Linked DNA regions of Homo sapiens: region 1 is linked to region 2. The links come from fine-mapping of genetic effects on gene expression. A gene starts in region 2. The other region holds a variant in brackets. All regions are shown on one strand. Distances are between the middles of the regions.

What was found. PIP is the estimated chance that this variant, and not a neighbour inherited with it, causes the effect. A credible set is the group of variants that fine-mapping cannot tell apart.
Region 1: its variant is the best candidate, but not a certain one, in a credible set for the expression of IRX4-AS1 in esophagus mucosa (GTEx, PIP 0.58).

The regions. Positions count from the first base shown.
Region 1 is chr5:1,946,891-1,951,270 of GRCh38, reverse strand. All of the region lies in intron 3 of LOC124901165 (keratin-associated protein 5-5-like), which reads right to left. All of the region lies in intron 2 of LOC105374618 (a long non-coding RNA gene), which reads right to left. Among named protein-coding and RNA genes, the nearest start is that of CTD-2194D22.4, 62 kb to the right of the region's middle. RefSeq lists enhancers at 1-1,053, 2,037-2,538. The variant G/A (reference allele first, on the strand shown) is at 2,045.
Region 2 is chr5:1,881,628-1,885,987 of GRCh38, reverse strand. It overlaps IRX4-AS1 (IRX4 antisense RNA 1), which reads right to left and starts at 2,655. Exons shown (of 2, transcript NR_183257.1): 1 at 2,442-2,655; 2 at 1,339-1,508. It overlaps IRX4 (iroquois homeobox 4), which reads left to right and starts at 3,063. Exons shown (of 5, transcript NM_016358.3): 1 at 3,063-3,385; 2 at 3,929-4,180. The coding sequence starts at 3,341. RefSeq lists enhancers at 264-797, 1,347-2,199.

The DNA of each region.
Region 1 (4,380 bases), 65 kb before region 2:
CGCACGCACAGCAGACGGCGCACGCACAGCAGACGGCGCACGCACAGCAGACGACTCACGCACAGCAGACGACGCACGCACAGCAGACGACTCGCACAGCAGGCGACGCACGCACAGCAGACGGCGCACGCACAGCAGACGGCGCACGCACAGCAGACAACGCACGCACAGCAGATGATGAACACACCCACAGTAGAGGGCACACGCACGCACAGCAGATGACACACGCACAGATGACACACGCACAGCAGATGACTCACGCACAGCAGATGACACACGCACAGATGACACACGCACAGCAGACGATGACGCAGGCACAGCAGACGGCACAAGCACACAGAGCAGATGACTCACGCGCCCACAGCAGACGACACACGCATGCACAACAGATGACACATACACAGCAGATGACGCAGGCATGCACAGCAGATGACACACGCACAGCAGATGATGCACACACAGCGGACGACTCGCGCTCAGCACTGGGTGTGAGGGTAGAGACTACGCCATCCATCTTTGCCTCTCCCAAGCATATTCAATGCGCAACCATAACCACCTCTCTCGTGAGAGCGGCGGGCACTTGGTGAGGTCGTGAAGCTGCCGAGGGGCTGTTTCAGAGCGCATGGTGACTCTGCATGTCCCCGGGCAGGAGGCCAGGGCGGGTGCGTGGTGCGGACCCAGACGGGAAGAAGGAGCTGCCCTTTGCGAGCCGCCTGGCAGGGGTGGGGAGAGCGGCCGCAGCGGTTCCAGGACAGAGGCGTCTCCCAGTGGTTGTGGGATGTTTTGTGCCGCTTCACACAAAACAGCACAGGATGCCCTCGGGCCCAGAAGTCGTGGCATGGGCTGGGAGCAGAACCTAAAATGCCCTCATCTCCCTTGGTGTCCTGGAGACTTGGGATGTGGTGAGGGAGAAGCTTCATCATCCTCACGCTCATGGGAGTGTCCCGGGAGCCCCCTGGGGGCTGGTCAGCAGCTGCTAGCTGCACTCTCAGGACCAGCTGGGCTGGCCGGTCCCTCTTCCCTCCACACCGAGAGGCCCTGGTGGCCGATCAGCTCCCCGGGACTCTGTGAACTTGGAGCTGTCCTGCACGTTTTCTGCACCCCTGGAGCCCCGCTGAGGACCTGGCACTTGACGGAACCCCCAACAAACGATGGAGCGAGCGTGTGGTTCCGTGAGCATGGAGAGGGCAGGTGTGAACCACGTGGGGACACTTCCCAACCCGCTCATAACCCCTAGCACCCTAAAGATTTGTGAGTTAAGTTTCTAGTGTGTGAACAAACCCAAGTCACTGCCTGAAAAAAAGCTGACAAAGACCAGATTGTGATTATTGGATCGAAAAGGCCATAAGAGTGTACTTGGATGCTAACGCAGAGGAACAGAAAGTCATTCCCTCCCACAGGAAGTCTGCAAGGACCACACTGTGTTGAAAACTTTAACTCCAATTCTCCCCAAACATTTTTCAAAGGGCACACAATATAAAATCAATTTAAGAAATCATTCAATTCAGCCACAGCTCTTTTCCCGGCATTATGTTACATATGCTAACAGGTCAGCTTAAGTAGCATTTCTTACATGTTGTCCACTAGAGACACAAAGATGAACAGGACCAGGACTTGGGGCTTCCCTGAAGACCCTGGGACCCCAACCAGGGAGAGCTGCCCGAAGCCCGCCGGAGGCCGTCTGCAGGGGTCTTTCCTCACACACTCCACTGTGCCCCTGGAAAGCACCGACAGCCAGCGTCATGGAGTGGGTGCCCTGGGCATGGCAAGATCACAGACAGCACTGCCCTGGGCGGGCACCCCCATCCCAGGGTGTAGGTTCGCATCGCCCCACCCCGCAGACAGGGTACTGAGGCCCACGGTCGCCAGCTAGCCGGGGCCAGAAACTACGCTACGGTCCAGCCGGTCTGAGCCCCCGCAGGGATGCTGCAGCCCTCAGGGCAGTTCTTCAGAACTCATGATGCTGACAGCCCTAGCCGGGGTGGGACACCCAGGAGCACCCAGCTCACCTGTGACTTTCAGAACTTCCAAGGCACCACACTGG[G/A]CACAGGACCAGGGCCTTAGGACTCAGCCTGGAAACACAGAAGGAAGGACCACAGACAAACCCGGAAAGGGCCCAAGAGAATTGGCTGCATGTCATTCAGGACTTGGCTGTGCCGGAGCTCCGTGTCCACAGCTGAGCAGGCGGCCGGGAGGGCCCTGCACGGATTCAGTGTGGGCATGCAGGGTGGCAGACACTCGGCACAACTTGTCACCTGATGCGAAACACTCGCCAGGGCTAAGCCAGTCCCGTGTGACTCCCGAGAAGGCAGCACTCCGTCCCTGGCGCACGGAGCAGGCGCTGGCTGAGAGCCCGACACGGGCCCGGAATTCATCAGTCACGTGTTCCGAGGATTCACCTAAACTTGCCTGTGAATCCCCAGCTTTGCAGTGCACGGTGCCTCAGAGTAAACACACCCGAAACTTCAAGGGATGTGCACCCGGTATTTTGTTTTTTGGACCAGTTGACGTGGTAACACCTGCCCTGTTAGAGTCATCCATGACAAGTCTGAACGCTGCAGGGTGTTGCAATAATTTCTGAAAGAATGGAAAACACTCCGTGTTAGGATAATCTGACCCCGATTAATCCTGACAGAGGCTAAACTCTTGAGGCAAAAGCTGAGGATGAGAAATGAATACACATCTTTAAACACAACCCAACACGGAGGTCTCATGGCTATGCCCACGCTCTCCTAAGCACCTTACGGAAAATAAAATTCTGGGCTGATTTTTACATTAAATGAATGAAAATCTTAAAATGACCTGTGATAATATAACTAAATCTAACAGCACGCTGTTTCTTCTGGGGGTTAGTAGACTGAAATGTCTGTAACCTACTGAGGAAAAGCAGACAGAGTTCTGAGGAAGCACCCAGCCTCCCGGAACACAAATCCCGCTCAAAACAGGAAACCCAGCAGAACGGCCCTCCTTGATTGCTGCAGGCCCTCGGGAAAAAACCTCCTGTTGTAAGTGTGTTCTGAAGTGTTGCAGTGACAAAAGGTTTTCCCCAAGGGCGTTTTAGGTTAAAATAGATGAGACCACGGGAGAAACATTTAGGATCCTAATTAAAGAGACTGTAGAGGCCAGGCGCGGTGGCTCACGCCTGTAATCCCAGCACTTTGGCAGGCCGAGGCGGGCAGATCACAAGGTCAGGAGATCGAGACCATCCTGGCTAACATGGTGAAACCCCATCTCTATTAAAAACCTACCAAAAAAAAAAAATTAGCAGGGCATGGTGGCAGCTGCCTATAGTCCCAGCTACTCAGGAGCCTGAGGCAGGAGAATGGTGTGAACCTGGGAGGCAGAGCTTGCAGTGAGCCAAGATCACACCACTGCACTCCAGCCTGGGAGACAGAGCGAGACTCTGTCTCAAAAGAAAAAAAAAAAAAAAGAGAGACTGTAGAGGGCTGCAAATTACAGTCACTAATGATCCAGGTCAGGCTTTACCCCAAAAAATACCATCGCAAAGGAAGGAAACTGCTTTAAAGTAAGCACATTTTGTAGCTGGGCATGGTGGTTCACACCTGTGGTCCCAACTACTTGGGAGTCTGAGGCAGGAAGACCACTTCAGCCCAGGAGGTCAAGGCTGCAGTGAGCTGAGATTGCACCACTGCACTCCAGCCTGGGTGACAGAGAAAGATCCTGTCTCAAAAAAGAAAATAAAAAAAATAAGGGTATTCTGGAACTTCACATTTCTCAGAAAAAGAAAACTTGTATGATAAAAGTTTGTTCTGTGAACATGTATATCTTGGACAATCATTGCTGCTGCATGTGAGGGAACAGTCATGGTGATCATTGCTCTCAATGGGCTGCAAGGAAGAACAGAGTCTACATAAGGCAAAGAAAAAAAAATCCTACTAAATTATTATTAGCTGGGTATGTACAATCCCTTTAAGGAAATATAGATGTGAACGCCTTTCACTCTGTGATCTTGATGACTGGCCAATGTTTAGAAAGAAATCAAGCCCACTCCCAAGGTGGTTGGTGGCAAATTGTCTTGGGGAAAGGGGACCATACACCCTTCAGGGGAGGGAGGTGAGGCTGATTAAGAAATCTCTAATTCCTTGCTGCAGTTCTTGTTTGGACAATTGAGTGTGCCCAGGAGCCACCGGGGGTCTGCCAGAGCCCCTGGGAGGAGGCAGTGTCGGGGAGGAAGAAGGAAGGTGGGGGAGATGAGGGCCGGTCCACTTGAACACGGAGCGGCTGGAATAGTGATGACAGACGAGAAGCAGGGGACCCAGCCCTGTGGTCATCAGTGATGCCTCGGGCAGCACCCAGGCGTCGGTGATGTGTGGGGCAGGCGGAGGCCTCCAGAGGCTGCCTTTGGAAAACCCCCAGAAA
Region 2 (4,360 bases):
CCGGTGCTGTGTACTCCGGGAGCCGGCTGACTTCTGGCCCACCTGCTCACGGGTGTATTTAGTACCGGGGGTCCCTAGAGGGAGGAAGGCTCAGCACTCCGAGTCTATGCAGACGCGTTCAGCTGATACCTGAGATGCTGAGCGTCCTATCGTTGGTGAAAGGGACACTGGGTGCCTCCGCTCCAGGCTTGGCCTTTTGGTGAAGGCACTTGGAAAATATTCCAGTATTATCTATGGGAGAAGGGTGGCCCAGTGAGAATCCCCGGTTTGGGCAGGCGGGCCTAGGCCAGGCTACAGGGTTTCAGTGAGATGTCCCGGTGGTCGCCAATCCACAGGCTGGATTGACCCTGTGTCCTGGAATGAGTAGTGGGGCCTGGGTGAGGCCGGGCGGGTCAGGAGGCCTCCTGGGCAGTTGCGAGCTTCCCGAGGCAGGGTGACTGTGACTGGGCCCGGACCCCAGGCGCTGGGGCCTGCTGGCGGGCAGGAAGTGGAGCGTGTGTGTGCGGCGGCCTGGGAAAGCCGATTCAGAGGCCAGGTTTCTGGGTCACGGAGAAAGGGTCGCCCGCTGGTGGGGACTGGAGCGTCGATTTATGCACACAGGCTGGAAAGGCAAAAGAGAACAGGAGAAGGTGGCGGTGGTGGTCAAAGGAAGCCCCCGAAAGGGCCCCCACGTACTGGCTGCCCTGGGAAGTGGAGGCTGCTTCTCCCAGACTCTGCTCAGAAGATGAATGGCCGCCTGTTCTGGGGCTTCGGCTCCAGTTAAGCCCCGCCGGGTCTGGAAGGAAGGAAATGCACCAGCCTCAGGTCTGGGTGGGCTGAGCTGTTGCACTAGAGCCCAGAGGTGCAGGGCATAGGTGGCTGGGCCCCTGGGCCCTGGCTCTCCCCCTCAGCCGGCGGAGTGCTCACAGTCGCCGAGGCCAGGTCCCCGAGTATAGGTGAGGAAAGGACAAGCCACAGCTGAATGCCTCCCCTCTGGGGGTCTCTACTCCCCATCCCAGCCCTTGGCCCGGCTGGGCTCACACCCCTCCTTCAGCCGGGCCTCATTACCTGGAGAGAGCGAGTAGTTTGTAAACAATAAATAATGGGAAGTAGAAGGATGCTCGGGAAAAACCAGAAAACTGCAAGGAGTGGGGAGGAGGGAGGGTGGGAGAGGGGAGGAAGGAGGGTGGGGGAGGGGAGGAGCAGGAGGAGAGGGAAAGGGGTTGAGAGATTCATTTCTAGCGAGAAACCCCGGTGGCTAGTTTCTTATTATTTACAGGAAGGTGATATTAGCGATTCAGGTGAGAAAGAAAGAAACGCGGCCTGCCGCGAAATCAATACAGAATTCAGAAACAATTATTAATGTCATTTGACTCGTGTTCTTTATATATTTCTCGCGGCTACCGACGCTAAACTGTCTGAATAATTTGCATGGAGCGGCTATTCATTATTTCCGATGGTTTCCCTCTGCAAGCAGCTCGGACGTGGCCCGCTCCGGTCCAACGCGATCGGAGAACTCGTATTTTCATCTGTAAATTAAAGCAATTACGCAGCAGATATTATATGATGTGTACTGTGGTCTCCAGATAGTCATCAATCACCTTCAACCGAGCTGTCAAAAGAGCAGGCAGATTTCGTTTCTGGGAGGCAGGCTTGCAGCTGGGGAGAGGGCGAGGACGTCATCATTAATTAGAGGGTGACCCTGGGGCGATTCACAGGTCTGAACCCAGGAATCTTTCTGAGCAAGTCTGCACAACGCTGCCTTGCACGGCTTCCTTCCCAACTTACCACGGGAGGCCGGCCCAGGGGGCGAGGGCAACCGGGGCGAGTCCCGGTCCCGGAGGGCGATGGCGCAGAAGGCGGGGAACGGGTTCGGGATGGCCCGGGCGCCCCCTTGCCGCCCCCTTGCCGCCTGCTCACTGGCCTCCGCTTTGAACTTGGGCAAGGTCCCAGGGAGGGTACTGGCCGAGGGAGTCCTGGGGTGGGCGCTCGGTCCCCTCTTCCGATTGCTCCGTGCGCCCCAGACAGAAAGCTGGGCAAAATGGACAGGGGAGGGCGCCTCCGCCAGGCACCCAACGCCCCCTCCCTCGCAGCCAGCCCTGCGGGGCGCCGGGAGGGACGAGCTTAGCGGGAGGGGCCGGGGCCTGGGTTGAGGAACCTGCTCTTCCGAGCGCGCAGGGCCGCCCGGCAGTCCCCGGCTTAGCCGCGAGGGGCAGGGGGAAGCCGGCGGAGCACGGCCGGCGGAAAGGGGATCGGGGAGGAAAGTCGGGGAGGCGAGGTGGGGGCGGTGGGCTGAGCGGGAACTTAAAAGACCGCGGTGGAGAAGATGGGGCGTTCTCCGCGACACTCGGCTGCCCAGAGGTGCAAAGCCGGTGGGCGCACGCCCGGGGCGGCCCTACAGCCCTCGGGCCGCCAGTCTCAGGGTGTCGGGCTCCAACTAAGGCCCCGAAGCCCCCACGCACCTGAGGGCATTTTGACCAGCTCTTGCGGGCTGTCTTGCGGCCGCAGTGGGTTCTGAAAGTCCATTCCGGCGTAGGGTGGAAACCGGCGGGAGGCGTTGCTGATTCTCGATTAAACAATAGTGACGAGACGCGTGCGGGGCGCCTGCGAGCCCCTTCCTGCCACTCGGAGCAGAGCGCGCCAGCGCGAGGCCGGGCCGGCCGCCTGCGCAGCGCCGGGCTAATTTTAACTGTTGATTACATCTTCAGCGTGTCCTTTCATAGGTCTCATTTGTAATTGAGACGAATGATTACAGTGGGGCGGGAAGGAGCAGCTGCTCATTAATTAATTTCTAATTAAAAGTGCCTCTCGTTCTCGGGTGACTAAAGAGAAACACCGTTCGCTGGGCGATATTGACTCGGATGGAATTTATTTGCTAACGCCCGGAGGAATGGCCCCTCCGTCCACCGCGCGGCCGGGACTGTCCTGGCCCCTCCCGGCCTGAGCCGCCGGCGAGTGACCGGCGAGTCTGCGGCCAGGCCGGGCTGCGCGAGGTGGGGCTGACGTCAGAGCCTCCTCCGCTTCAAGCCGCGCACATCTGACTTGACGGGTTCGCGCGACTCGTTTTTTTTTTTTTCTTTTTCGTAAAATATGTATTTCTGTCGCCGCTGCGAGGCCGCTCGGTCCCAGAGCCCCCTCGAGCCTCCGGAATGCGAAGTTAAAGGAATCGCGGCGGCCACCGCTGCTCACTTTGTTACCCGGTTAGAAAAGTTTGCGGAGCGCGGGGATGGACTAACCGGCTCTCCTGCTTCGCCCTCCCAGCGCCTAGAAGCCTGCAGCTCCGGAGCAGTGGCCGCGCCACGCCGGCCCCAGCGCGCAGAACCCTGCAGGCCCCGCCCGTCCGCCCCGGGCCGCGCCCGCCATGTCCTACCCGCAGTTTGGATACCCCTACTCCTCGGCTCCCCAGGTAAGCGGAGCCCCGCCCCGCCCAGGCCACCGCAGGTGCCGGTAGGGCGGATGGGGCGGGGACGGGGGGTGGGGAGTGTCCGACCTACGACTGCCTGCGGCTTCCGAGCTAGCAAGGCCTGGGTCGCGCGCCCCTCACGCCCAACCCCTGCTCCCCAAACCCCCGGGGAAAGGCCGAGGCGCTAAGAAAATCCGACGGGCCGGGCCCGGGTTCCCTGATGTTTGAACCACAAGGCTCAGGCTGTGCCCCAGGGGAGTCCTAGGACCCCAAGGAACCCCTGGGGAAGGAGGCTTGGCGCGCAAATGGCGTCAGAGGCCTTGGAAACCCTCCGGGGAAGGGTGTAGGTGCTCGGCTGGGCCCCACGTGGCGGAGGAGGCCAGACGCGCACAAGCTAGTGGAAAGGGGCGAGCATCCTGGTGTGGACGGCGGGAGGCCCGGGGGTACTCGGGGCACGCCCTCGTGGGCGGCGCGCGGGATTGGCAAGGCCCAGGGCCCCAGCCTCCAGCCCGGCTTCCCGCCAGTCCTCGCGGCCTCTCTCTGCAGTTCTTGATGGCCACCAACTCCCTGAGCACGTGCTGCGAGTCCGGAGGCCGCACGCTGGCGGACTCCGGGCCCGCCGCCTCGGCCCAGGCGCCGGTCTACTGCCCGGTCTACGAGAGCCGGCTGCTGGCCACCGCGCGCCACGAGCTCAACTCGGCCGCGGCGCTGGGCGTCTATGGGGGTCCCTATGGCGGATCGCAGGGCTATGGCAACTACGTGACCTACGGCTCGGAGGCGTCCGCCTTCTACTCGCTGGTAAGTGGGGCATCCCTAGCCCTTGCCCTGCCCCTGGCCCTCGATTTGCCAAGCCCACTTTTGCCCCAGTAGGCGCGCCAGTCCGGGTCCCCGGACTGTCACAGAGGGGAGGCGCTCACCTTGGCTGCCTTCAACTTTGCGCCTCCCAGCCGAGACCCTCAGAACCCCACCCCCACCCCC